4 linked regions of the Homo sapiens genome follow. The protein of the gene in region 3 purifies or fractionates together with the protein of the main gene of each other region. This does not show direct contact. Each region holds a gene or a part of one and is shown on either strand. Other genes may lie near its edges.

Region 1 (7,022 bases), on a different chromosome or scaffold from region 3:
ATTCCAGATGATAGGAAGAAAAGGGGATAAGTAGGGGAACCTGTAATATTACCACCAATAACTACCCCCAAACAGTGCCATATGAAGCAGAAATGAGAGAATGTGTGTTCTCAAGGCCTAGGGTGAGATCAAGGCTAAAGAAGGTAGGACAGGGTGCTGTACTCCATTAGGGCTAGAGAAATCTCGAAAGAAGACCCATGGGCAATCAGTGAGTAATAAGCATGAAGTCAGCATGGTACGGTGACGGGGTAGGACAGTAGGACTTTGTTCTCCGACAGGAGTAACTTGGATCCTTACCCTATTTCTTTACTAGATAGGGAAATTTGAGTAACTTACCTTTTTGAGCATTTATTTCTTTTAAAAATGCAAATGTGTGGCTGGGTGCGGTGGCTCACGCCTGTAATCCCAGCACTTTGGGAGGCCGAGGCAAGTGGATCATCTGAGATCAGGAGTTTGAAACCAACTTGGCCAACGTAGTGAAACCCCGTCTCTACTAAAAATACAAAAAATCAGCGAATTGTGGTGATGCATGCCTGTAATCCCAGCTACTCTGGAGGCTGAGGCAGGAGAATTGCTTGAACCCGGGAGGCGGAGGTTGCAGTGAGCTGAGATCACGCCATTGCACTCCAGCCTGGGCAACAAGAGTGAAATTCCCGTCTCAAAAAAAAAAAAAAAAAAAGCAAATGTTACTCACCTCACCCTTTAAAGAGATAAAGGGTGTGAAGTACCAGGACCATGGTAGATGCTCAGCTTACATTAGCTCCTGCCTTCCTCTTTCCCCATCACTCTACTCCCAGCATTTTTCTAGAACTAGGCTTCCAAGAGACAGCCATCTGGAGAGAATGATTGCCCTCTTCTTCCTCCCTCCACTAACAGTCTTTCTAAAGGATGTCATTACTCTCTTCAGAGATCAGTCCAGTAGACTTAATATGAATTTCCAAACCCCTCAGGCCTAGAAACATCCCTAAACCTGATTAGTGGAAATAGGAATTTCTTGATGAAGAAAGCATCTTGCTACATAATTAGAGATGATAAGCTTAAACGCTAAAATAGCTGTTTGGCATGATTTTGTGTGAATATATTCATGAAATCAACCAACCAAAAATAGATTGTGTCATATCCTTCCTTGTTTTTATAGAAGCAAGGGGCATGGGCAAGCAGGGCCCCTGATGTTGGAAAGGAGCCTCCAGGGAGGGAAGAATTAACAGGCTGGAGGACTAGGCTGGGAACTGAAGAGAACCCCGGAGGCTTCACACCTGTGACTAGTGTTGATCTTTTGTTAACTTTTAAATGGCCTGAGTCCATAGAAACTGCATCCTGAGAGGTTGCTCGGCTAGAAAGCGGAAAACCGCTTCACATGAGTGCTCTACTTTGTAATGAAAATAAACACTATTAATACAGGCAATTGTACACTGAAGGATCATTGTATTTATATTTGTAATTGTATAAGTAACACAAATATATTTTGGTTGTAACTATTAAGCTATACAGATAAAGCGAAAGTCTGTCATTCCCCCTTAATCCTAAAAATGCTTAGCTCTCTCTTGAGAGTAAGAGTTCTCAAAATTTTGGTCTCAGGACCCCACTACACACTGAAAAGTAATGAAGAAACTTTTAAAGGGCTTTTTGTATAGTGAATTAACATCTGTCAGTATTCACTATATTAGACATTAAAACTGAATTTGTTTTCGTATTCATTTAAAGCTAACAATAATATACCTATTACTTGTTAACATAAATGACCCTTTTTAATAAAAAATAACTATATTTTCTTTTAATTTTTTTTTTGGGGGGGGGACAGTTTCACTCTGCCACCCAGGCTGAAGTGCAATGGCACGGTCTTGGCCCACCACAATCTCTCCCTCCCAGGTTCAAGTGATTCCCCTGCCTCAGCCTCCCGAGCAGCTGGGATTACAGGCACGTGCCACCACGCCCCATTAATTTTTGTATTTTTAGTAGAGATGGGGTTTCACCATGTTGGCCAGTCTGGTCTCGAACTCTTGACCTCAAGTGATCCGCCCACCTCAGCCTCCCAAAGTGCTGGGATTACAGGCATGAGCCGCTGCGTCTGGCCATATTTTCTAAAACAAAAATAATTGAAAGGGAAGAATGACATTGCTTCACATTTTTGCCAGTTAATGTGCACCTTAGTAACAGAGCTAGATTCTCATGTCTGTTTCTGCATTCAAGTTTCTTGTTACACCATGTGTCATGTCATGTCTCCTCTAAAATAACCCATCGTAGAATAAGAGGTAAAAAGCCAAATAGTATCTTGGTATTATTATGAAAATAATTTTGACTTTGTGGACCCCCAAAAAAGTCCTAGGGACCCCAGGACTCTCCAAACCACACTTGGAGAACTACTGTCCTAGAGGTAGCTACTATTATCACTTTAGTGTGTAACCTTCCAGACTTTTTTTTTTTTAACAAGGACTACTTTATATAGACAGTCATATGTATTCACACATTTCTGAAACTTTTTTTATTAACAGTATATGTATTTCCAATATACTGTTAATAGTTTTCTAAATTGGTATGGATATATTTGCACTCCTTAATTTCCGCATATTATTTCCTAGTATGAATGTACCACAGTTTTACTTAACTATTTACCTGTGAATGACCTTTAGGTTTGTTCTGATTTTTTGCCAATAGTAGCAATGCTGCAGTGAATATCCTTCTATACAAATTCATTTATGTATTCAGTCTTGCAACAAACATTTACTGAGTACCTTCTGTGTGTCTGGTACTATCCTAGGTACTTCAAATATAGCAGTGAACAAAACAGAAATCCCTGCGTGGTGTTTTTGGGTTTATAGCAGGCCTGTTGGTAAACTTTAGACCGTTCAATAATACTGGGATGTTGTACACAAAATTTGTGGTGGTGGTGTTCATAAATGGAGGAAAGTACCCATGGTTTTCATCAGATCTTGAGAGAGCTAATATAACTAAAAATAGATTAGGAACCAGTGATTTAAAGCCTTTTTGATAATATTTATTTTACTTATAATATGGAAAAAATTTCCTTTACAGTCTACCCTCTTGAGAATCGTCTCCTATATTGCTGTGTCACCAACCTATCATTGAGATGAAAAAAGAATCTCCGGGAATGTAAAGCCTCTAAAAAGTATAGGAGGTGTAGGGCTGGGATGGTGTGGCGATGTGTAGTGCACATTTTCATGAGGTGATGTTAAAAAATTTATACGAGGTCATACAGGTTAGTCAGCAATATTACAGGACTCAAAAGTTATTGCCCATTACGAAAAAAATGGGATTTCTGCTAATCACCAGAAGAAAGTTAAATTATGTGAACTACACATGGTTTTCTGTGGTTATAAAGAATGAGTTTTAGAAAGATTTCTACTAAAAATGTTTAACCTGATGTTAAAATGTTTAAAAGCCTACATTTCTATTAATTGGGAAATATAATTCAGAATACTATCCATATTCTCTAAAAATGAGCCTAATGACTCATACTTTAATATAATATAAAAATATTGGTGTAGAATCTTCTTTAGTTTATACAATTAGAAAGTTGCTGATTTAATAAGAAAGTTATGAGAATGTCTTCTTGAATCATTACATTTATCCTGTGAGGCATGTATACAGTTTTGTTTCTGAGGTGCTGTATTAATATTGCGTCCTGGCCAGGCACAGTTGTTCACTCCCATAATCTCAGCACTTTGGGAGGCCTAGGTCAGAGAATCACTTCAGCCTGGGATTTCAAGACCAGCCTGGGCAACATAGGGAGTCCTCATCTCTAAAAAAAAATTTTTTTAAATAGCTGGGCCTGCCTGTAGTCCCAGCTACTCGGGAGGCTGAGTTGGAAGGATTGAGCCTGGGACGTTGAGGCTGCAGTGAGCCATGATCTCACCACTGCACTCCAGCCTGTGTGACAGAGCAAGATCCTGTCTCCAAAAAAAATAATAATAATATGTGTTCTAATTCATTTTCTAAAAATTCCCATCCAAAAAAGCTTTTGTATAATCAGCTATACAGGTTTATGTTGCATACATTAGATATATTACTTTTACGCTACAATGGATTTTTATTTTTAAAGTGAAATCGAGTCAGATTAGTATCATATAGATGTATTTACATCTTAATGTATTTTCATCTTAATGAATTATTTTCAGAGAATGAGCATTCTAAGTAAAGCTGATTTCCGTTTTAGAACTGAACTACCAGACTAGTACTTTAAGAGAATGGTGCAAGGCCTGGCACGGTGGCTCACGCCTCTAATCCTAACACTTTGGGAGGCCAAGGCAGGCAGATCACAAGGTCAGGAGATCAAGACCATCTTGACTAACACAGTGAAACCCCGTCTCTGCTGAAAATACAAAAAAATTAGCTGGGCGTGGTGGCACATGGCCTGTAGTCCCAGCTACTTGGGAGGCTGAGGCAGTAGAATAGCTTGAACCTGGGAGGCGGAGGTTGCAGTGAGCCGAGATCGCACCACTGCACTCCAGCCTGGGCGCTGGGTGGCAAAGTGAGACTCCGTCTCAAAAATAAAATAAAAAAAATGGTGCAGATATGGTCCCCTTTTAATTTAAATAAGGCCTTCAACAAAGCTGTTGTGGCATTCTTTTGATTGAAGTGGAGATAGTGCTTTTAGTTGGTTGCACTGAAGAATTGTTTTCAAAGGATATTGCTTAATGGCTAGATAACAGCCTGGAAAGAATTTTGTTTTTAATCTTAGGATCTCCTCTTAAAAACAGCTTGTTAATATGGAAAAGTATATGGATGATGAATGTTCATGGTCTCACTACCTAGAGGTCTCATTAAAAAGCATACACAACCTGATACACGTATATGTTTTTTTAAAGAAGAGTAAGGTATATATAGAGAGAGTGATACAGTGGGGTGTAAAGTGAAACGAAGTCTCCTCTTCCTGACTTCTCCCTCTGTTGCCCAGGCTAGAGTGCAGTGGCGAGATCTCCGCTTACTGCAACCTCTGCCTCCCAGGTTCAAGGGATTCTCATGCCTCTGCCTCCCAAATAGCTGGGACCAAGGGCATGTGCCATCACACCCAGCAATTTTTTTTTTTTTTTTTGAGATGGAGTCTTGCTCTTTCACCCAGGTTGGAGTGCCGTGGCGTGATCTCGGCTCACTGCAACCTCTGCCTCCCGGGTTCAAGCGATTATGCTGCCTCAGGCTCCCAAGTAGCTGGGACTACAGGCACCAACCACCATGCCTGGCTAATTTTTTGTATTTTTAGTAGAGATGGGGTTTCACCATGTTAGCCAGAATGGTCTCGATCTCCTGACCTCATGATCTGCCTGCCTCGGCCTCCCAAAGTGCTGGGATTACAGGCATGAGCCATCGTGCCTGTCCCTCCTCCTGACTTCTCAAACCCTGGTCCCTTTCCCCAAAGATTTGTTAGCTGTGTCTTAGACATCGTTTCAGATCCACTTTTTTTTATAGACCCATAGAATACACTTATGTCATTTAAACTTACTTATATAATATTACATGCACTCTTTTGCTTTTTTTTTTCCAGTCAATAACATGTCTTGGAGATTTTTTTCCTATAGACATGTATCTACCTTATTTTTTGAGAACTGTACAGTATTTTATAGAATACATATTCTTTAATTTGTTTAACCAGTCCTCTATTAATGATGTTTAGATTTATTTTAGGCTAGTTTCCAGCCAGGCGCCATGGCCCACACTTGGAATCCCAGCACTTTGGGAGGCTGAGGCTGGTGGATCACAAGGTTAGGAGATCGAGACCAGCCTGGCTAACACGGTGAAAGCCCGTCTCTACTAAAAATACAAAAAAAAAAAATTAGCTGGGCACGGTGGCAGGCGCCTGTAATCCCAGCTACTCGGGAGGCTGAGGCACAAGAATCGCTTGAGTTCAGGAGGCAGAGGCTGCAACGAGCAGAGATCACACCACTGCATTCCAGCCTGGGCAACACAGCAAGAATCCGTCTTAAAAAAAAAAAAAATTATTTTAGGCTAGTTTCCAATAAGAATAAACCCCTACTTTTAGTGCCTAACACAATAAAGTTTTATCACATCACAGCTGCGTGCTGGTGGGACAGCCCATCTCCATCTTGTAGCTGTGCCATCTGGCCCTGTGTTCTATAATCTGGCCCTGTGTTCTATAAGATCACCACAGCAAAAGAGATGGCCTGGAAAAGGCTCTAGCTCTTAACTGTCTTGCCCCTCCTTTCTTTGGCCAAAAGAAATATGTGTTTGAGATTGGGAAGTGTCAAGGAGCACCTGGATATTTGGGGAGCATCAGTGGTCTCTGCCACTGTACCAACAGTTAAGTCCTGTATCAGGCTTCAAAAAGAAGAGGAAGTCATTACCCAATTGTTCATTTGAGAAACAAACTCCACATGTATCAGCAATGTGCTCATTTCCTAAACAAGCCTATTGGCTGCATTACTAGATATAGAATGAAATATTTTGATTCTAGGTGCCCCATTTTAAGAAAGATTGATATTGACACTGTCCAGGGACATGTAGTCAGAACATGTAAGGATCTCCAGATTTTTGTGTCCTGAAGGTTTTCAAAGACTTGGAGGAGAGGGCAATGGTTTGTAGGGTACAGAATACTCTTATTCTGTGTGGTTCCCAAAGAGAGAACTAGAACCAATGATGGAGTTTTAGGATGATTTCTCTCACAATGCAGGATATTTAATCAGCAATTAGAGACTTTCATAAATCAAACATAAGCCAGATGACATCTATGAAGAATATTGTAAATATTTTTTGCTTAGCATGGGAGATTGGTCTGGGTAGTCTCTGCGGCCTCTTTTTTAAATCTGGAATTTTGTATCATGAATGTCAAATGAATATTTCTTTTTCTTTTTAAATAGGACACTGATGAAATTCAAGTTAACTATCCTGGAATGTTTGAATTGATGGAAGATTTACAAGGTAAGGCACTTTAAAGAATTTTTAGACTCCATTGGGAAAGGTAGGCCAAAAAAAAAGAATTTTTAGACTCCATTTGAGAGAAACATTTTGAGAGCCAGCTCTTTGGCAGGCACTGGGCAAAGCACTAGGGA
Region 2 (7,903 bases), on a different chromosome or scaffold from region 3:
TATTCATCCCCCCACCCCGTTTTTTGAGACAGGGTCTCACTTGTGCTGCCTAAGCTGAAGTGCAGTGGCACGATCACAGTTCACTGCAGTCTTGACCTCCCATGCTCAAGCAATCCTCCCACCTCAGCCTCTCAAGTAGCTGGGACTGTAGATGTGCACCAGTATACTCAGCCAAATTTTTTTTTTAGATGGAATCTCGCTTTGTCGCCAGGCTGGAGTGCCGTGGCGCAATCTTGGCTCACTGCAACCTCTGATTCCCTGGTTCAAGTGATTCTCCTGCCTCAGCCTCCCTAGTAGCTGGGATTACAGGCACGGGCCACCATGCTTAGCTAATTTTTTCTGTATTTTTTAGTAGAGACGGGTTTTCACCATGTTGGCCAGGATGGTCTCGATCTCCTGATCTCGTGATCTGCCCGCCTCAGCCTCCCAAAGTGCTGGGATTACAGGAATTTTTTGATTTTTTATTGAGAAGAGGTCTCACTATGTTGCCCAGGCTGGTCTTGAACTCCTGGACTCGAGCAATCCTCCTGCCCCGGCCTCCCAAAGTGCTGGGATTACAGGCATGAGCCACCATGCCCGGCCATATTCACCTTTTTAAAGTGTATAGTTCAGCGATTATTCATATATTTATAAACTTGTGCAACCATTGCCACTATCTACTTCCAGAATATTTTCACCACTCCAAATAGAAACCCTGTACCCATGAGCAGTCACTCCCCATTTGTCCCTTCCCCAAGTCCCTGGCAACCACTAATCTACTTTCTGTCTCTATGGATTTGCCTATTCTGGACATTTCATATAAATGGAATCATACAGTATGTGGTATTTTGTGTCTGACTCCTTAAAATACTGCTTTTGTTTGTTTTAGAAATGGGGTCTCACTACATTGTCCAGGGTGGAGTGCAGTAGCAATTCACAGGCTCCATCCTGACACTCTATAACCTTAGCCTCCCAGGTAACTGGGACTACAGGCACTTGCCAGCTTGCCCAGCTCTTAGCCTCACCATTTTTTTTTTTGAGACAGGGTCTCACTCTGTCACCTAGACTGGAGTGCAGTGGCATGATCTTGGCTCACCGCAACCTCCGCCTCCCAGGCTCAAGTGATTCTCTTGCCTCAGCCTCCCGAGTAGCTGGGATTACAGGTGCACGCCACTACCGCCCGGCTAATTTTTGTATTTTTAGTAGAGATGGGGTTTCACCATGTTGGCCAGGCTGGTCTGGAACCCCTGACCTCAAGTGATCCACCCGCCTTGGCCTCCCTAAGTGCTTGGATTACAGGCGTGAGCCACTGCACCTGGCCCAGCCCCACCATTTATTATTATTCGTTTTTCAGATCCTAAGGTTGCATTGCTCTTCTCCAATCACATTCTGCATTCATTGAATATCCTTTTCCTCCTCTTGAGCTGGTTATGCCGCATGACAGACAGAGAGACTTGTCTGTCCGTTCAGGCCTCTCACAAATGTCATGTCTTTGTGAAGTGCCCCAGGTGTTCTCTAACCCCAGAGGGTCTCATTTCCCCTTCCCAGACCCCTCCTTTATTTCAGCTTGTGGTGCTTATTATTATTTTATTTATTTACTTTGAGCCAGAGCCTTGCTCTGTTGCCCCAGCTGGAGTGCAGTGGCGTGATCTTGGCCTATTGCAACCTCTACTTCCCGGGTTCAAGTGATTCTCCTGCCTTAGCCTCCCAACTAGCTGGGATCACAGGCGTGCACCACCATTCCCAGCTAATTTTTGTATTTTTAGTAGACCCAGGGTTTCGCCATGTTGGCCAGGCTGGTCTCGAACTTCTGACCTCAAGTGATCCACCCCCCACTCGGCCTCCCAAAGTGCTGGGATTACAGGCATTAGCCACCGCACCCAGTCTGTTATTATTATTTTAATACATTTACTTAATTTTAACCTTCCTACTGCACTGTGACTGCCACAAAATCACTGATTTTTTTTATCCTTAGCCTAGAGACTTGAACATAATAAGTGCTCAACAAATATTTGCTCATTTGCATGGCATTGCCGTAATACAGTGGCTCTAAATCAGGGAGCAATTTTGCCCCCCAGGGGACATTTGGCAATATCTGGAGACAGTTTTGGTTGTCCTGGGGGCACAGAGGTGGCATGCTTCTGGCTTCTAGTGGGTAGAGGCCAGGGATGCTGCTAAGCCCCCTCCAACGCATGCACAGGACAGCCCTAACAGCAAAGAATCATCCTGCCCAAAATGTCAATAGTGTCAAGCTTGAGACACCTTGCTGTAAGCTAATTAGTGCTCATTGTGAATAGGTTAGCAAAAAGGAACCCAAAGAGATCAACCTACCAGTCTGGCAGAAAATCTCACTAGGAAATGTCATGCCTTCTTTTTGTTGTTGTTGTTTGTTTGGTTTTTTTAGGAGCGGAGGCTGACTTTAGTGCAAAGCTCTTTCCTAATGTCATAGAGGTGCCCTGGGAGCCCAGATGGTATTTTCACCACACTTGTTCACCTTTAAGAGTGGCAACTGACCTCTCAGGAATCCCTGAAGTGCTAGGAATGTAACTCTGTTAAGGAAGAAAATCCAGGCCTTTTTAAGTCCAACAAAATGTCAAACGTGAATTGTGTTCCTGGGAGAAGGAACGGGAAGGGAGGTGTTTTGTAAAGTACCCTCTCCTGGCTTCCCCCATGGTGATGAAACTTCAGAGCTGGCTCTGGAATAAATGATTCAAGAGAACCCGAGGCCCTATCTCCTGTTCCTTTAAAACTTGCAAAGGAGCTTTGAGAAGGATTCTGTTCGCCACGTGCTTCTGTGGGCAACTCATTTGCAGGAAACTCACTTGCAGGAAATTCATTTGCCGGAAACTCAAGGCACTGGTATCACTTAATCATGAAAACAGCAGCCCCATCGGAGCAGAAGTTACTGGCTTTAGAGTCACATTTTAGGTTCCTACTCATCCCATCAAACCAGTTCTTGTGACTGACATGGAAATTAGGTAATATATGCCCTGAAAAGGAAAAGTAGGAGCAGTCTGAAGGAGTTTGACGAGGCAAGAAATAGGGTTGACATGCTATTTTAAAAAGTTTGTCCTTGGGGTAGAATTACCTGCCAGACTGACTGGGATCTGGTAGTGGTATGTGTACTTGAAAGAGCTACCTTTAGCACAGCTGGCAGCAATATAAATGCCAAGTAGAGGATTCCGAGAGGCACTACCCCCTCTTCTGGGCACTCTCCAATTCTTGTGCCATTAAAAAAAAGGAAGGTGTGAATGCATTATTGTCATTACTATACCATTTATCCAGTAAATGAACATTTTCTGGGTTCTGTATATTTGACAAAATGCCACTACGTGAAGTCATTTCTTCCGTCCAATTTTGATGAAAGCTCTTAAAGACAGAAACATATATATAGACAGTACTTGGCACACTGTGAACTGCAAAAGTGTTTAATGATGACAGTAATTAGGATAACGGAATAATATGTGTTGAGTTGATAGTTGGCAGCATTTTAAATATATTAAGAAAGCATAAAAAAGGACCATTTAAAAACGAGGTGGGAATCCCCAAAGTAACAATGGTCTTGTTAAAAGTGAACTAGAAAAAGACTGCTGTTTCTGAGAAATATATGTTTCAATCAAACTAAAAATTACTCTAAATTGAATTACTTGCCCCAAAGCTCATTTTCTGTTGTTTGTGAACCCCATTCACTCAATCATTCCTGTATTCAACAAACATGACTTTCTTTTATCATTTGTGTTCTTATTCCATTACTCCTTCCTTTTTTTTTTTTTGAGATGGAGTCCAGCTCTGTCTCCCAGGCTGGAATGCAGTGGCGCTGTCTCGGCTCACTGCAACCTCTGCCTCCCAGGTTCAAGCGATTCTCCTGTCTCAGCCTCCTGAGTAGCTGGCATTACAATCGTTTGTCACCAAGCCCAGCTAATTTTTTTTTGTATTTTCAGTAGAGACCATGTTGGCCAGGCTGGTGTTGAACTCCTGACCTCAAGTGATCTGCCCACCTCGGCCTTCCAAAGTGCTGGGATTACAGGTGTGAGCCACCACGCCCAGCCCATTATTCCTTCTTTTATTCCACAGACATTTACACACTCTCCTACTGTGTGCCAGGCATTGCTTTAGATTCTAATAATTGAGCAGCAAATGATCCTTGTCCTTGGGAAACTTAGAATCTAGTGAAATATTCATTCATTCTTTCATTCATTCACATATTTACTGGGTGCTCACGTGTTCTGGGGATACAGCAACAGAAAACACAGGACCCTCAGGTAAACGAATTACATTCCAAAGGGTAGAAGCGAAAGCAAGGGCAAAGGTCTTGAGACAGCTGTGAGCATGGCTAGAGGCCAGTTAGCAAAAGGGACATGACACCATCTGTGTCCCCTCCCACTCTGATAGGGACACATAACATTTTCTCAATTTTTCCTAAAAGACTACAAAAAGTCTCTTCTTTCCAAACAGTTTGCCGCCCTAAATCCTTCCAGTATATTACTTGGGGAGGTGTCACTAGATCTGTGTACCTCTGTTTCTCATTATGTGACTCCATTCTGGTTTCTTGCAGGTTTTTGTTTAAAGGAATGGTGGCGTTATTTATTTAAAACAGGCTTTAAAAGATACGGTTAAAACAGGGTAGAAAACCCTCACGTGGCCCACCTGCAATTCCTACTAACTTAACATAGGTCCCGCGTCTGAGGAATCCCCCTAGGTCCTAAATCTTTGGCAGCCAAGTCAAAAGTGACTACGACTCCGGGACTATAATTCCCAAGAGACACTGCGTCCGCACCCTCTGCGCATGTTCAACCTTGGTGACTGCATAAGGCAGCGAGCCCAAGGGGCTGGGCTTGGGCCTGAGCGGTGAATCGGGGCGGGGCTAGGGGCAGGGCCAGGGAGGGGGCGGTGCTGCCGGCACCGCCCGGAACACGCTAGTGGAGCGGAAGATGGCGGCGGCGGCGGCGGCCGCTGCAGCCGGGACTTCAGTTGGGCTGAGGCGGAGGAGCCGCCGCTTCTGACCTCGCTCTGGCTCCGGTGCGCGCGGCTGAGCGCGTGCGAGGCCCCGCGCGTCGGGCAGGGGCGGCGGCGGCCACTGCGCGCCGCCCTGAGGAGCGCCCCAGCGGCGGCGCGACTGCGGCTGAGGAGAGAGCCGGCTCCGGGCCTCCGCGTCCTCCTGCTCCCCCGGCCCCCCGCCTCCTCGGGGGGGCGGCGGCGGCGATGTTCTCGGTCCTCTCGTACGGGCGGCTGGTGGCCCGCGCCGTGCTCGGCGGCCTCTCGCAGACCGACCCCAGGGCCGGCGGCGGCGGCGGCGGCGACTACGGACTGGTGACGGCCGGCTGCGGCTTCGGGAAGGACTTCCGTAAGGGCCTCCTCAAGAAGGGCGCGTGCTACGGGGACGACGCGTGCTTCGTGGCCCGGCACCGTTCCGCGGACGTGCTCGGTGAGTCCCCGACCCGGTTCCCTTGCCCCAGCCTCGGATCCGCCTCCCGGGGACTCCCCGCGCGGGGCTTCCCCAGTTCCTCCCGGCGGCGAAAGGAGCCAGAGCGCTCACATGGAGGGAGCGCTTACTATGCGCCAGGCGCCGTGCCAAGCGCTCCGAGGCGCGTTTTCCGCTTGAACGACCCCCATTTTAGAGAGGAGGAAACTAAGGCGCACAGCGGTCAAGTCGTGTGCTCAAGGTCACAACCCGAGAGTGTGACCGGTCTGTCCGAGTCCAGAGCCACACTCTCGGTCTCACTCGGCCGTGCCAGCCCTGGGCGACCTCGTCCCCTCCCTGGGCGACACCTGCAGGCTCCTAACCTCGTTCTGGTTCCCTCTCCGCATGCCCCGGGGATCCCTGCCTCTTCGCGTGCTCCCGACACCACAGCCCGGCCCAGGCTGCGGGATCGCCGGCCGACAGGCAGTCGTGAGCCCCCAGACAGCCCGGCCGTATTCTTTCGCCGCCTGGATGGTAACCAAATCTTCACCCTTTTCGGAGTGTGGCGGTGGGGGCTGCTGGCTTGGCGAAAAAACCCTCACAGCGTTTTCTCCCAAATTGATCTTGTCCACTTGCGGTCACTTGGGGGTTGGCAGAGTCTCCTTGATCCAAAATAGAATGGTCGAGCCTACTTGTAGATTGCAGCCGGTAAAGCTCTGAGGATTGGTCACAGCCTTTTCAGGCCACAGGTGCTCCCTGAGGCCTATTCCAGTTATACCTTTTGGGGGTGGGAGACTACGGAGAGAGCTGGCAGAAAGGGCTAAATATAGTTCACAAGCAGTCAGAAACTTTACCATAATGTACGCCTTAGGAGATTTTGTGTATGCTATGGGATATTGTGCCGTTAAAACTCTTTGAATGAATAAAGCAATGCGCTCGCTTTGAAATTGAAGGACGTGTTGTCATTGAACTTGGGTTCAAATGTCACTTTGATTTCCCTTCCCAGGTGAGACTAAGTTTTTGGTTACTTTAAATTTCATATGCTGAGGCAGAGTTTGGCATTGGAACAAATGATTCTGTAACTTTTTTATGACAGTAATTATTTTTTAATCTGATCTCAGAATAATTGCCTAGTATCTTTGGTTCTACTACATGTAGTGTTTGTGAACATGGGACTGGAAAGGTTGTTCTCAGTTTAATTTATGAATGACCCCATTACCTGGGTTGAAGAAAAAGCATTTAATGTTTAGGCAACGCTATTGATATTAACATGAGAGGGAGACTTAGAAAGGTCCTGCAGCTTGCAGATTGAAATTGTACAAATCCACCCCGAAGTCAGCTGTCAGTGGCTGTCTTCCCTGATACATTTAGAAGTGCCTCACTCAATGAGCTTGTGACCTGTGCTGCGTTTTTTTTTTTCAGACGGAGTCTACCTCTGTCACTCAGGCTGGAGTGCAGTGGCGCAATCTTGGCTCACTGCAGCCTCCGCCTCCCCGGTTCAAGCGATTCTCCTGCTTCAGCCTCCCGAGTAGCTGGGATTATAGGCGCCCATCACCATGTCCAGCTAATTTTTGTATTTTTAGTAGAGATGGGGTTTCACTGTGTTGGCCAGGCCGGTCTCGAACTCCTGACCTCGTGATCGGCCTCGTGTTCGCCTCGGCCGCCCAAGGTGCTGGGATTACAAGTGTGAGCCTGGCCCCTGTGTTGCTTCTTAAAGTTGTGTTCATAACATAGGATAGGGGATAATGAGCCTCTAAGGTTCACCTCATAAATCTGTATGCTGGGCTGCGCGTGGTGGCTCACTCCTATAATCCCAGCACTTTGGGAGGCTGAGGCGGGTGGATCATGAGGTCAAGAGTTCAAGACCAGACTGACCAATATGGTGAAACCCAGTCTTTACTAAAAATACAAAAATTAGCCGGGCGTGATGGCGCATGCCTATAGTCCCAGCTACTCAACAGGCTGAGGCAGGAGAATCTCTTGAACCAGGGAGGTGGAGGCTTCAGTGAGCCAAGATCGTGCCACTGCACTCCAGACTGGGCGACAGTGCGAGACTCCGTCTCAAAAAAAAAATAAAATAAAAAATCTGTATGCGACTTTTGTGAAAGATCCGTGACTTGATTGATGATTTGGGGAGTATTTAAATGTATCAAATTCTATATGGAAGCTTGATTTTAAAATTTTGGAAGGCTAGACCGGGCGTGGTGGCTCACGCCTGTAATCCCAGCACTTTGGGAGGCGGAGGTGGGCGGATCACCTGAGGTTAGGAGTTCGAGACCAGCCTGGCCAACATGGCAAAACCCCGTCTCTACTAAAAAATACAAAAATTAGGCAGGTGTGGTGGCACACGCCTGTAGTCCCAGCTACTAGCGAGGCTGAGGCAGGAGAATTGCTTGAACCTGGGAGATGGAGGTTGCGGTGAGCCGAGATCACACCACTGCACTCCAGCCTGGGTAACAGAGCAAGACTCCGTCTCAAAAAAAATACAATAAAATTTTGGAAGGCTACCTTCTTAATGGAGTG
Region 3 (7,588 bases):
TTTGGGAGGCTGAGGAGGGAGGATTGCTTGAGGCTAGGAATTGAGACTGCCCTGGTCAACATAGTAAGACCCTGCATCTACAAAAAATTTTTTTTAAATTATGGCCAACCGCGTGGCTCACACCTGTAATCCCAGCACTTTGGAAGGCCAAGGCAGGTGGATCACTTGAGGTCAGGAGTTTAAGACCAGCCTGCCAACATGGTGAAACCCCGTCTCTACTAAAAATAGAAAAATTAGCCAGGGGTGGTGGCATGAGCTTGTAATCCCAGTTACTCGGGAGGCTGAGGCAGGAGGATCACTTGAACCCGGGAGGCAGACCTTGTAGTGAGTCAAGAGAATGCTACTGCAGTCCAGCCTGGGTGATGGGAGTGAAACCCTGTAAAACAAAACAAAACAAAACAAAACAAAACAAAACAAACAAACAAACAAAACAAAAAAACAAAAAAAAACAAAAAACATTGGCTCACGCATGTATTCCTAGCACTTTGGGAGGCTGAGGCAGGTGGATCACCTGAAGTCAGGAGTTCGAGACCAGCCTGGCCAACATGGTAAAACCCCATCTCTACTAAAAATACAAAAATTTGCTGGGCATGGTGGTGGGTGCCTGTAATCCCAGCTACTTGGGAGGCTGAGGCAGGAGAATCGCTTGAACCCAGAATGGGGAGGTTGCAGTGAGCTGAGATTGCGCCATTGCACTCCAGCCTGGGCGACAAGAGCAAGACTCTGTCTTTAAAAAAAAAAAAAAAATTGCCATGCATTGGTGGCACATGCCTGTAGTCCCAGCTACGCTGGAAGCTGAATCAGGGCAATTGCTTGAGCCCAGGAGTTCGATGCTGCAGTAGGCTATGATGGCACCACTGCACTCCACCCTGGGTGACAGAGCAAGACCCTATTTCTAAAATAAAAACAAAAACAGGCAGGACCCACTGGGAGCAGAAGTGAAAGGCACTACTCTAGGTCTTTTGGGATTGGTACAAAGCCACCATTCCAGTGGTACTGTGAGGTTGATAGCTGGAGGACAAGGGAAAACTACACAAAATAGAGTGAAGAAGCATGTGCAAAGAGCTGGAGGAGATCACCTGTGGAACTAGAACTGGTTGCCTGTTTGGAGATTTTAAAATGCCAGCCATCAGCCATGGTATTTATTGAGAACTATTCAGATTTTAAAGTAAATGCTTAACTAAATGTCACTAGAAAACAGTATTTTTCTTAGCCTTATAATGTAAACATGGGCTGGGCGCGGTAGCTTACGCCTGTAATCCCAGCATTTTGGGAGGCCGAGGTGGGTGGATCACCTGAGGTCAAGAGTTCAAGACCAGCCTGGCCAACATGGTGAAACACAGTCTCTACTAAAAATACAAAAAATTAGCCAGGCGTGGTGGCACAGGCCTGTAATCCTAGCTACTCAGGAGGCTGAGGCAGGAGAATCACCTGAACCCAGGAGGCAGAGGTTGCAGTGAGCTGAGATCGTGCTATTGTACTCCAGACTGGGTGACAAGAGCAAAGTTCCGTCTCAGTAAATAAATTAAGTAAGTAAACATGATAAGTTGACGATGTATCACAAATTCATCATCAAGATAATAGTTTCAGAGTGCAGGCTGACAATTTCATAGGGAAAGCAGAAGTAAAGGATAGCCAGAAATAGAAAGGCCCACATAGTGACTTCTTTTTTAAGAATTTCAATGCTCTGAAAGATCATGAATAAATAATATTATTTTCCAAAATGTACTAATGTATTTCATTAGATGTGTATAAAACAAAATACGTATAACATTGTGGCTGTTATTTAAACAATGGAAAGAAAGTGATGCCATTTTCCATTTACAATTTGTTTTAAAAATCAAAGATATGTAAATTTACTTCCCATATTTTGTTAGTGTATTTTCTTTTTTTCCAATTCCTGCTTATTCTGAAATAACAGCCAAGTATCATTTGATAATACTCAAGAAATAATAAAGTAGGTATGATAACTTTTAAAACCACCATAGGGCTTAGAGTTCAGGAGGTTCCGGCTCAGACCCATGTTTGGCAATGATAATCTCCTTAATTTCAAGAATTTTATAACCAAAAATGAGTTTTTGTCTTAGAAAGCCTATCACAAGAAAAAGTAGTGAGAAAAGCCTACGACTCCAGAAACTATTGGTCATAACTTTTCCTAAAAAGCAAACTACACAAAGTGAGACACGCAGTTGGGGTGTGGAGAGAGCAGTTTCTTTATTCATTTTTAGAATTAGAAGGGAGAAATTTGGCTGGGTGCAGTGGCTCATGGCTGTAATTCCAGCTCTTTGGGAGACTGAGGTGGGTGGATCACCTGAGGTCAAGAGTTCAAACCAGCGTGGCCAACATGGCGAAACCCCGTCTCTACTAAAAATACAAAAATTAGCTGGGTATGGTGGTGCACACCTGTAATCCCAGCTATCTGGGAGGCTGAGGCAGGAGAATTGCTTGAACCTGGGAGGCAGACATTGCAGTGAGCCGAGATCATACAACTGCACTCCAGCCTGGGCGAGAGTGAGACTCTGTCTCACAAAGAAAAAAAAAGGAAAAAAAGAAGGGAGAAATCCTGTTGATGGAGTTTATGGTGGCTGATGTCCTAGAAAGTACTGATTAGAAAGTATTAATTTATGTCTTAGAAAGTAATAACGGCCAGGCGCGGTGGCTCATGCCTGTAATCCCAGCACTTTGGGAGGCCGAGGCGGGTGGATCATGAGGTCAGGAGTTCGAGACCAGCCTGGCCAACATGGTGAAACCGAGTCTCTACTAAAAATACAAAAATTAGCCTGGCATGGTGGCAGGTGCCTGTAACCCCAGCTACTCGGGAGGCTGAGGCAGGAGAATCGCTTGAACCCAGGAGGCAGAGGTTGCAGTGAGCCAAGATCGTGTCATTGCACTCCAGCCTGGGCAACAAGAGCAAGACTCTGTCTCAAATAAAAAAAAAAAAAAAGAATAACAAGATTTATTTCATCAAATTTAAACAGAATTCACATTGACTTCACAGCCCTTTGAATATACTTGGACTTTAAGTTCAACTGTGCTGTTGACCAGTCTTTCCAAACGGTGTTACAGTACAAAGAGCATGGGCTGCTGAACCAGACTGACTAAATAGGAAACTCTGCAATGCCACTTGTCAGCTATGCATCTTGACCAACTTATTATTATTATGTTGCACGTGGGTCTTGAAATCCTGGGCTCAAGCAATCCTCTGGCCTGGGTCTCCCAAAGTGTTGGGGTTACAGGTGTGAGCCACCACTCCTGGTTTCCCCAAATTATTTAATCTCCCTGGGCCAGTTCTTTTACTCATAAAATGGATTTGTTTCTAACACAGAATTGTTGGAAACTTAAATGAGTGTCTAACGTGCCTCGTATTGCCAGACTCTCAATAAACTTTTGCCCAGTCAACTAATATCCAGCAAAGAGGCTAGCGATTTTTCTTTTTTTTTTGAGACAGAGTTTTGCTGTGTCGCGCAGGCTGGAGTGCAGTGGTAGCTCGATCTTGGCCCGCTGCAACCTCCGCCTCCTGGGTTCAAGCTATTCTCATGCCTCAGCCTCCCTTGTAGCTGGTATTACAGGCGTGCACCATCGCGCCCGACTAATTTTTTTCCCCCGAGAGGAGTTTTGCTCAGTCGCCCAGGCTGGAGTGCAGTGCCGAGATCTCAGCTCACTGCAACGTCTGCCTCCCGGGTTCAAGCGCTTCTCCTGCCTCAGCCTCCCGAGTAGCTGGGATTACAGGTGCGTGCCTCCACGCCCAGCTAATTTTTGTATTTTTAGTAGAGACGGGGTTTCACCACATTTGCCAGGCTGGTCCCGAACTCCTGACCTCAAATGAGCCGCTTGCCTCGGTCGGCTTCCCAAAATGCTGGGAGGCTAGTGATATTTAACGCTAAATAACTCTGGCCTCCAAAGATACCTGTTTCCATTTTAAGACACTTCTATTTCGTTTTGGGAGGGTAAACTAGTTATATTTTAATAATGAAAACATGTGTTACATAAGCACATAGTGAGTACTCGAATCAACCTCGGACTCTCCGGGCGTGAGGGGTGGGTGAGGGGACCGGCAGGTGGTCACAGCCCCATCAAAAGGGAGTTGGGGCTGGGGGATGTCGCGGTCAACTGGGAAAGGAGAGCCAATCAGCAAGTGGCGCGTCCCACGCCGTCTGTCAAATGCATCTGGGGGTTAGCTGTACTCATACATCTTGTGGGTGACTAGGTGACTTCCGTGTTCAAGACACAAGCGAGCTAAGCCTGGGATTTCAGTTTGCACAGCGCTTTGTTAAGTTTTGTCTCTCAATCTTGCTGTCCAAGAGCGAACCTGGAGGTCGTCTGTTAGCGGTAAATTCTTTACCCACATTCCGAAAAGGAAAACGGCGGCCGCGCGCGAGGACATATTCCTTGGATGGTCACTCAACCAGGACTCCGCTGCTCCCGCGCCCTAGCTTGACCTAGCGCACCGCCCCCTCCCCGACGCAGGCGCAGTCGCGGAGCTGTAGAGCCCCACGCAGCTGCAGAGCCATCGGGCTGCTGCGCCATGCGCGCGACTGGGAAAGAAGGGGTCGCGCTAGGCTTGCGTCACTCGTCTGCGACGGCGCCTTCGCGAAACACTATGCTAATGGCATGGTGCCGCGGTCCTGTCTTGCTGTGCCTGCGGCAGGGGCTCGGAACCAATTCATTCCTGCACGGCCTGGGGCAGGAGCCCTTCGAGGGAGCTCGGTCACTGTGTTGCAGGTCCTCGCCTAGAGACCTGCGAGATGGAGAAAGAGAGCACGAGGCGGCACAAAGGAAAGCCCCAGGAGCAGAGTCTTGCCCATCTCTCCCTCTGAGCATCTCGGACATTGGGACTGGATGTCTTTCGTCACTGGAAAACCTCAGACTGCCGACGCTGCGGGAAGAGTCATCCCCTCGAGAGCTCGAGGACTCGAGCGGAGACCAGGGCCGGTGCGGTCCCACACACCAGGGATCCGAGGATCCTTCGATGCTCTCGCAGGCCCAGTCCGCTACCGAGGTCGAAGAGCGTCACGTCTCCCCTTCTTGTTCAACTTCCAGAGAGAGACCCTTTCAGGCTGGGGAACTGATTTTAGCTGAGACTGGGGAGGGAGAAACAAAATTTAAGAAATTATTTAGGTTGAACAACTTCGGACTCTTAAATAGTAACTGGGGGGCAGTCCCGTTCGGCAAGATCGTGGGGAAGTTCCCCGGCCAGATACTGAGGAGTTCCTTCGGTAAGCAGTACATGCTGAGGAGGCCAGCCTTGGAAGACTATGTAGTATTGATGAAAAGAGGGACTGCCATAACATTCCCAAAGGTAATGCGATGGAGATAAGGTGTGTATTGGTTTCAGGAGGGGCAAAGACAGATGCAGTACTCAGTCCTGATTAATGTATTCAAAGACATCTCAGAACGTTTGGATTTTTTATTGTACTCAGGCTTTTAAAATAAACCAATGGTTATAACTTTTACATATCATGATGAAAATTAGCATTAGGGAACGGCTAGATTTTAATTTTAACTTAGGAGTCTCGAGTCCCTTATTTGTAAAATGTGGATAATAGCTCAACTTTCTGTTAGGGTGATGTGAACTCACTACGTACATAATAAGTACTAATTTTGTTCCCCATTACTCTTAAGTTTATAACTTCAGGACTCAAGAGAATGTTGAACTCTTAGGGAACAATTTTTTAGTACTACTATGATGATATTTTAATATTCAATAATCATGTTACAAGAGTATATTAACAATAGGTACATTACGGTGCTTTTCCCCTTTTAGGGAAGAAATAGAGTTTTATATTACAATAGCTAACATTCAACACCAAACATAAAATGACTATTCTTTATTAAAAAGTTAACTGCCTAAAGCCTAGTTTCAGTCTTTTTTTTAAGACAAGTTCTCACTCTGTCATCCAGGCTGGAGTGCAGTGTTGCGATCTTGGCTCCCTGCAACCTCTGCCTCCCGGGTTCAAGCGATTCTCCCACCACAGCCTCCTGAGTACCTGGGACTACAGGCATGCACCACCACCCCGGGCTAATTTTTGTAGAGACGGGGTTTCGCCTTATTGCCCAGGCTGGTCTTCAACTCGTGGCCTCAAGTGATCCGCCCACCTCGGCCTCCCAGTGCTGGGATTACAGGCGGGAGCCACCGCGCCCAGCCCTAGTTTGAAGCTTATGCTAATCATCTATTGCTAGCAGATTATTTCAATCCTTAGTCACAGTCCTTGAGTAGAATGTTCCTGTGTAACACAACTCCTCCTCCTTTCTCCAGATCAGGATTCATTCGTTATTTATTCAGCAAATTGACTGCCTTCCATACTCAAGGCACTGTTTAGGGAAGTATAGTGTTGAACTGCAGTCCTCACCCTCAACATAGACCTTACATTCTAGAAGGGGTGACAAAGAACAAACAAGTAAATGAAAGAATAAGGTCATTTCCAGTAGTGTTAAGTGTCATGAAGACAAATATATTAACAATGACATTGTTTTGGGTGACCTGGGGTATGAGCATACTTTATGTCAGGTGAGGAGAGATGGTCTCCAAGGAGGTACACTTGATAGGAAACCTAAATAAGGAAGAGCTTGCCTTGTAAACAGATCTAGGAAGAGAATTGTTCTTGCAAAGGGAGGAATGCTGCAGAGTTTCTGTTGTGGCCTCAATGGGTCAGATGAGGGACCCCGTATGAGGTGTGGTTTGAGTATTTTATTCCATTTGTAGTGAAGGACCATTAGAAGGTTCTTAGTAGGAATCCAGTCTGTATTTTAAACGGTCTACCCAGGGACTAAAAAAACTTTCCTCAGAAACTTAGGCTACTGAGGTATAATAAGCTTTTTTTGTTTAAAGACAAGGTCTTGCTATGTCACCCAGGCTAGAGTGCAGTGGCTCAATCACCTCTTACTGTAGCCTGAACCTCCCAGGCTCCAACAATCCTCGCACCTCAACCTCCTGAGTAGCTGGGACCACAGGTGCATGCCACTATGCCTAGCTAATCAAAAATTTTTTTTGTAGAGTTGGGGTCGCCCTAACTTGCCCAGACTGGTCTCAAACTTCTCTAGGCTCAAGGGATCCTCCCTTGAGGGTGCTGGGATTACAGGTGAGAACGACCGCTCCTGGCCATGGTATCATAAGCTCTTGAAGAAAACTAAAAGACTTTCGTAATTTTATCTTGCTTCCCCGTGTCTCCTTTCTCCCCATTAGACAAAATCAGGAGAGATTAGTTACATTTCATGAAGTTATAAATATGCATATTTAGTATACTTTCTGCCTTTCCATTTGTTACAGATAAAAGTCACATTGTTCCACTCTAAGGAGGAATTTAAGTACTAAATTTGTTAGGTGTTGACTTCTCTTTATAGCTTCCAAGTAATGGCTGGAGATAGTTTTACTTCAACTTCTACAACTTTGAAATGCTTGAGGGAATACCTTCACTGATGTTTAAAAACTGATCTCCCTGTTAGAATTACATAATTCCATCTTAGTATTAAAAATATGACCAGAGGCAGAGTGCAGTGGCTCACACTTGTAATCTCAATATTTTGGGAGGCTGAGGCAGGAGGATCATTTGAGCCCAGAAGTTTGAGACCAGCCGGGGCAACATAGGGA
Region 4 (7,022 bases), on a different chromosome or scaffold from region 3:
TTAACACACTCTATTTCCTTCATTATAGCACGTGTTATAATCACCGGTTTACTTGTCTTTACCTTTCACTGTACTGTGCATTCTATAAGGGAAGAAATTGCATCTGTTTTGTTCTCTGTATAATCCCAAGTGCCTGGCACATTGTAGGTGTGCATAAATATTTTTTAAATGACTCAGTAAAAAAAAAAGTCAGGTTTGTAAACTCTTCTAAAAAGTTGTAAGCAAAAACAGTTCTTACCCCCGTAGTAAATTATTAAAATAGCCTTATAATGTTGTGTTTTACATTTCCCTAGGACATAATGCATTTGACTCTTGATTAATCATGCCATTTGGAATTTTTCTGTTGTGTCTGTCTTCCTGTAGTAAAGTGTAAGCAATTTGAATTCAGGAACTATATATTGCATCTTATTTAGCTTTGCATTTCCAAGTCCAGTACAATGTCTGACTTTAGGAGTGCTCAACAGCTGCCTATTGAATTATTATTAAATATTTCCTTAATACGCTACTTTGGTGAACAGTTTCATTTCCCTTTATGTTCTTCTGTCCTGGTTGTGATATTGAATTATTAATTTTTTATTTTTATTTTTTTTGAGACGGCGTCTCACTCTGTCACCAGGCTGGAGTGCAGTGGTGCAATCTCAGCTCACTGCAACCTCCGCCTCCCGGGTTCAAGCGATTCTCCTGCCTCAGCCTCCCAAGTAACTGGGCAGGCACGCGCCACCATGCCCAGCTAATTTTTGTATTTTTAATAGAGACGGGGTTTCGCTGTGTTGGCCAGGATGGTCTTGATCTCTTGACCTCGTGATCCACCTGCCTCAGTCTCCCAAAGTGCTGGGATTACAGGCATGAGCCACTGCACCTGGCCTAATTTTTTATTTTATTTATTATTATTTTTGAGACAAGTTCTTGCTCTGTTGCCCAGGCTGGAGTGTGGTGGCATGATCTTGGCTCACTGCAGTCTTGACCTCCTGGGCTCAAGTGGTCCTCCTTCCTCAGCCTCCCAAGTAGCTGGGACTACAGGCATTCACCACCACAGCCAACTAATTATTTTGATTTTTAGTAGACAAAGTCTCAATGCATTGCCCAGTATGGTCTTGAACTCCTGGGCTCCAGTGATCCTTCTGCTTTGGACTCCCAAAATGTTGGGATTACAGGCATGAGTCACTGCACCTGGCTGAATTATTTTTAAAATCAAGGAAAGACCTATTTTAGTCAAATAATTGCATTAAGACTTAGACTACACGTATAGTTGTTCAACCAGGATGTATTTGAGAATGAAAATGGTGTTATTAATAATTGCCTTGAATCACTAGAGGTGAATTGGGTGTCACCTCAGGCAAATTGGTACAGATGGTCCCCATAGAACTAGGTGTCTTTAGTATTGTTCATAGATGAATTTAGAATTGCTTCAAATATAAAATATATAAAACTGATAATTCCATAAGCATGCCTTTTTAAAATTGGAGGTTTAAAGCCTTATGCTTAATTTACTAGTCTAGCTGGGTGTGGTGGCTCACACCTGTAATCCTAGCATTCTGGGAGACTGAGACAGGAGGATTGCTTCAGCCCAGGAGTTTAAGACCATCCTGGGCAAAAAAGTGAGACCCTGTCTTTATTTTATTATTATTATTATTATTTGAGATGGGATTACAGGTGTGAGCCACTGCACCCAGCCAACCCTGTCTTTGAAGAAAATTAAAAAATATAATTTACTAGTCTAATAGTCTGTTTCTAGAAAAAAAATTTAGAATTCTAGCTTGAAAAATTATTTCTTCTCCTCTTTCCTGTTGCCTGTTAATCCATCTATTCAGCAACTTCACAGTGTTTTTAGCCTTCTCCTCAGAGCCATTCAATTACTATTATATTAATCATATACTGCCTATGGTACTTTTGTTGCTTTTTTTCTTTTTCTACTATTAATTACCTCAGTCAGGAGCCTGTTGCTTTGTGTCTCAAATACTATACAGTACTCTCCCCTTCTTATCTGTGGTCTCAGTTAGCCATGATCTACTGTAGTCTGAAAATAGGTGAGCACAGTACAGTAAGATATTTTGAGAGAGAGACCACATTCACAAAACCTTTATTACAGTATATTATTATAATTTTTCTATTTTATTATCAGTTATTATTATTACTGTCTTACTGTGTCTGATTTATAAATTAAACTTTATCATAGGTATGTATATATAGGAAAAACACGGTATATGTAGAATATGTAGGATTCAGTACTGTCCATGGTTTTAGGCACCCACCGGGGGATCTTGAACGTGTCCACTGCACATAAGGAGATAAGAGAGGAATACGGTAATAGTTATTTTTTTAAAAAAATCCTTTTTTGATAATTTTGGTATGTAATAGTTTCTTGACTTCTCCCTTTCTCTCCAGATTTTATCTGTTATAATCTATTCAATAAACCACTACTAATTTCCTAATCCTTTTTCTTCAATAACCCATAATGTATGAGTTCAAACTCCTTATACTGACATTATAGTCATCAACCATTTCCTCCTTGAGCTGTTTCCATTGCTCTCTTTTATACCTTTGGTCAAGCCAAATCAAGCCGCTCAATGTCCCAGCAGATATGCTAAGTCAATTTCTGCTGTAGTTTATTTATGCTGTTTCCTCTGCCTTAAAAGTGCCCTTCTGCTCTTTTATTATGTATGCTTATTATGCACAGTGCAGCTTAAATCTTCCTCCAAGAAGCCTTCCCAGGTCACACTAACGTGAAAAAAAAGCCCACCAGACCCCTCTACTTAAACTCCTTTTTTTTTTTTTTTTTTTTTGAGATAGAATTTTGCTCTTGTTGCCTAGGCTGGAGTGCAATGAGATTACAGCTATGAACCACTGTGCCCGGCCTGCTTAAACTCCTTTATCACGTACTGCCTATGTCTCTTTTTTTTTTTTTTCGTAAACCTATGGACTATATTAAAGAAGCCTATGCCTCTTATTACAAAAAGTTAGAGCATGCATGTCCATGCTTGAGTGTGTTTGTATGTGTGTTTATTTTCTCACATACGTTGTAAACTCTTTGAAATTAGGGATTATTTCTCCTATTTCTAGGGTCTTTGACATCAAATTTATTTAGCTTCAGAGCTCGATTGTTCCACTTATTTGCTGTGTGACCTTGGACAAATTACTTCACCTTTCCCATCAGTTTCCCGTGTGTTGAAGAGGGCTAACGTGTATGTTCCACAGGGAAATTGTAAATGTAAAGATGATGTCTGGGCCGGGCACCATGGCTCATGGCCTGTAATCCTAGTACTTTGAGAGGCCAAGGTGGGCGGATTGCCTGAGCTGAGGAGGTCGAGAGCACCCTGGGCAACATAATGAAACCCCGTCTCTACTAAAATACACACAAAAAAAGTTTAGCTGGACATGATGGCACATGCCTGTAGTCCCAGCTACTTGGGAGGCTGAGGCACGAGAATCGCATGAACCTGGGAGGCGGAGGTTGCAGTAAGCTGAGATCGTGCCACTGCACTCCAGCCTGGGTGACAGAGTGAAACTCCATCTCAAAAAAAAAAGAAAAAAAGATGATGTCTAAAAAGGCTATTTTTCTTTTTTTCTTTCTTTTTTTTTTTTTTTTGGAGACAAGGTCTCTCTGTCACCTAGGCTGAAGTGCAGTGGTGTGATCTTGGCTCATTGCAACCTCCGCCTCCCAGGTTCAAGTGATTCTTGTGCCTCAGCCTCCCAAGTAGCTGGGACTACGTGTGCCACCATGTCCAGCTGATTTTTGTATTTTTAGTAGAGAGGGGGTCTCGTCATGTTGACCAGGCTGGTCTCAAACTCTTGACCTCAAGCAATCCACTCACCTCAGCCTCCCAAAGTGATGGGATTACAGGCCAGAGCCACCATGCCTGGCCTGTCTGAAAAGAAAGTACTCAGCACATGGGAGGCACTCAATAAATGTTAAGCGTGGTGGTTTATGCTGCCCCGACCCATGAATAGTTCAATACGAGTTGTGTTGTTGTTGAAGGTAAGACCTTCTAGTAGTTTAATTTTCTTTCAAATGTTTTACAAATATGAACAATTTTATTTAAATTAAGGTGAATCTATATACTTCAAAACTTTCCTTTATTGTCCCTAAGTTTTATGTCTGATGAAACAGAGGTTGATTCACTCCTTTGATTTTATTGTTGACCAAGAGTCAGGATTATGGGAGCTGAAGGAGAAAGCAAGGACAAACAAAATGGAAATGTTTGGGAAAGAGAATTCTTTTATTGTCTTCTGGTTTTAAGTTATCAATTTTAATTATTTTAGTTAGGCTTTATATTTCCTGAATATTAATGTTAGTAAAAATAAAATGTTGATATTATAAAGACTAGTCGATTTAGGGTGATCTCTAAAGTTAAGATGAATGATTTAAGATTATTTATGTTTTAGGAAAGGGATCTTCAGTTTTTCTTTGCCTTCAGAAATCAGTAATAGTTTGAAATTTAAAGTAAAAAAATAAGAATTTAAATGTATTGTTCTTGTCAGTAAACCAAACTTTTACTTTTATATTTGCTATCAGAAAAAAACAAAAATTCTAGTTTATAAATATGTATTAAAACATGACTGTACTATATGATGTTTATTATAACATAGCCTTTAAAAGTTAAGAGCTAATCACCACTAATGTACATGATTTTTTTTTTTAAGTAAAAGTGACTCTGTTACATACATGAAAAAGTTTCACTTATCAGTATTCTTATACTAAGAAGGTTAGAAATTTCTGCAGAGAAGTAAGCTCAGGGCTTTAAAATTAAATAAGTAAATAAATTCTGTAGTTTATGTTTACAGTATGATGTAGTTAAGTATTAATAGCATTGAAATTTTTTTTTTTTTGAGATGGAGTCTTGCTCTGTCACCAGGCTGGAGTGCAGTGGCTCGATCCCGGCTCACTGCAACCTCTGCCTCCCGCATTCAAGCGATTCTCCTGCCTCAGCCTCCCAAGTAGCTGGGACTACAGGCGCATGCCACCAAGCCCAGCTAATTCTTTTGTATTGTTAGTAGAGACAGGGTTTCACCATATCGGCCAGGCTGGTCTCTTTAACTCCCTACCTCGTGATCTGCCCACCTTGGCCTCCCAAAGTGCTGGGATTACAGGCGTGAGCCACCGCGCCTGGCCTAATGGCATTGAAATATTAACTTTCCAAATAAGATATTATGGCCTGGCATGGTGGCTCGCACCTGTAATTCTAGCACTTTGGGAGGCTGAGGTGGGAGGATTGCTTGAGCTCAGGACTTCAAGTCCAGCCTGGGCAACATACTGAGACCTTGTCTCTACAAATAATAAACAAAATTAATTGGGTGGGGTAGCATGCGCCTGTGGTCCCAGATACTTGGAAGGCTGAGGCAGGAGGACCCCTTGAGCCTAGAAGGTCAAGGCTTCAGTGAACTGTGATCGCACCACTGCACTCCAGCCTGGGCAACAGAGTGAGACCATGTCTCAAATACACACACACACACACACACACACACACACACACACACACACAATACCTTTCAGACACTTAGGTTTTGATATATAGAGTTGAATACATTTGGGCCTACTTATTTCTATAAGAGATTTTAAAATAATATTATACTAAGGTACTATGTAAAATAGTTAATTCTAAAGAGTCATCTATAAGTTACTATAAGTAAACTTTGGGGTATCATACTATACAAGTTTTTCATTGTTTTTAGATGCTAACTATTACTTTAGAATTCTTTAGTAGTTTTAGTTCAGGAAGTCCAATGACTTAAGCATACCTATAAGCTGATGTATTTATACAGAATACACTGTTAAAATGTCTTTACTTTCAGAAGGAATTTTGGGTAAGGATCATAAATGTAACAAATCTAAATCTAAGGATATAATATTTCTATTGTGACAATGGTTCTACTTTTAGAATGGAATTGAAATTCAATTTATACTTAGAGATAAGCCGGTATGGTTGTTTATAAATGCTTTTACTTTTTGTTTTCTCATCTGTAGATTTGTGTTCGCTATTTTCAAACATGTGGTAATGTTCATGTTTTGAAGCCAAATTATGTGTGTTTCTTTGGTTATCCTTCATTCAAGTATAGTCATCCACATCACTTCCTGAAAACAACTGCTGGTAAGTATGATTTCAAAATAACGTGTATAAAATAATGTTTTGTACCTCATTCAGTAATATTTTTTAGTAGTTGATTGAGACTTTTTAAACAAAAAAAAGTTGACTCTGTATTTCTAGCCGGGCCCTTCCCATCTCCCCACATTTTTCCAGTTCTCACTTTCTTTTTTCTCATCCCTCTCTTTTACATACTTTCCTTAACACTGGCACCCCTTTTTAAAAAAAATTTTTTTTTAGAGACAGGATCTCACTCAGTTGCCCAGATTGGAGTGCAGTGGTGTAATCACAGCTCACTATAACCTGAACTCCTGGGCTCAAGTGATCCTTCTGCCTCAGCTTCTCAAAGAGCTGGGATTACAGGCATTAACTTATCTCGCCCAGCACTTGTGTCTTTATAATATTGGGAATGGGTTGTGTTGGGCCATCTATTTATCATCTGGCTCATCTAAGTGCAATAGTCAGCATTGATATGACTTTCTCAGTCAAGGTAAATTGTTGACTTAATAGAGGTGTCTTTGTGTTGGCATACACATTGTGGTATTGTTTGTTGAAAGAAGCACTTAATCTGTCAAGTGAACATGGTGTGATGAAACCAGCCTGATTTAGTACTAAATAGAAAGTTCCCTGACTTTCACCATTTACTTACTTTTTCCCCAGCTTTTTCTACCCTCTGTAAAGAACTTGAAGGATTAAGTATTAGATTTGGCAAGGGCACAAGAACTGTTTTTTTTCCTGATGTTCTATTTAGAACCCTGATAAAGAACCCTAGACTTTTGTTACACTATTAAGTTTTTGACAGATACATGGGAGCTTAGTTTGTGCTGGGAATGAAAAATGGGGGAATTCCAGGCAGACCCCAAGTCAGCCTTTCCATGCTCTTTTTTTTTTTTTTTTTTTTTTTTTTTTTTTTTTGAGCTCTGTTGCTCAGGCTGGAGTGCA

The links.
Region 1: the proteins of TRMT61B (region 3) and NDUFAF5 purify together in Homo sapiens (co-immunoprecipitation; 3 studies listed by BioGRID and IntAct, with this or other methods). This does not show direct contact.
Region 2: the proteins of TRMT61B (region 3) and PPTC7 purify together in Homo sapiens (affinity purification with mass spectrometry; 3 studies listed by BioGRID and IntAct, with this or other methods). This does not show direct contact.
Region 4: the proteins of TRMT61B (region 3) and DBT purify together in Homo sapiens (co-immunoprecipitation; 3 studies listed by BioGRID and IntAct, with this or other methods). This does not show direct contact.

The regions. Positions count from the first base shown.
Region 1 is NC_000020.11:13,802,012-13,809,033, forward strand, and holds part of NDUFAF5 (arginine-hydroxylase NDUFAF5, mitochondrial), read left to right. Parts: intron 1-1,138; coding exon of another isoform or gene 1,139-1,321; exon of another isoform or gene 1,322-1,405; intron 1,406-6,830; coding exon 6,831-6,891; intron 6,892-7,022. UniProt on the Homo sapiens protein: Arginine hydroxylase that mediates hydroxylation of 'Arg-111' of NDUFS7 and is involved in the assembly of mitochondrial NADH:ubiquinone oxidoreductase complex (complex I, MT-ND1) at early stages. May also have methyltransferase activity.
Region 2 is NC_000012.12:110,580,310-110,588,212, reverse strand, and holds the start of PPTC7 (protein phosphatase PTC7 homolog), read left to right. Parts: upstream 1-4,894; 5' UTR 4,895-5,181; coding exon 5,182-5,404; intron 5,405-7,903. UniProt on the Homo sapiens protein: Protein phosphatase that plays an essential role in mitochondrial metabolism and biogenesis. Positively regulates biosynthesis of the ubiquinone, coenzyme Q. Dephosphorylates the ubiquinone biosynthesis protein COQ7 which is likely to lead to its activation.
Region 3 is NC_000002.12:28,867,290-28,874,877, reverse strand, and holds the start of TRMT61B (tRNA (adenine(58)-N(1))-methyltransferase, mitochondrial precursor), read left to right. Parts: upstream 1-4,568; 5' UTR 4,569-4,600; coding exon 4,601-5,299; exon of another isoform or gene 5,300-5,318; intron 5,319-7,588.
Region 4 is NC_000001.11:100,239,825-100,246,846, reverse strand, and holds part of DBT (lipoamide acyltransferase component of branched-chain alpha-keto acid dehydrogenase complex, mitochondrial isoform 1 precursor), read left to right. Parts: intron 1-2,244; exon of another isoform or gene 2,245-2,304; intron 2,305-5,962; coding exon 5,963-6,086; intron 6,087-7,022. UniProt on the Homo sapiens protein: The branched-chain alpha-keto dehydrogenase complex catalyzes the overall conversion of alpha-keto acids to acyl-CoA and CO(2).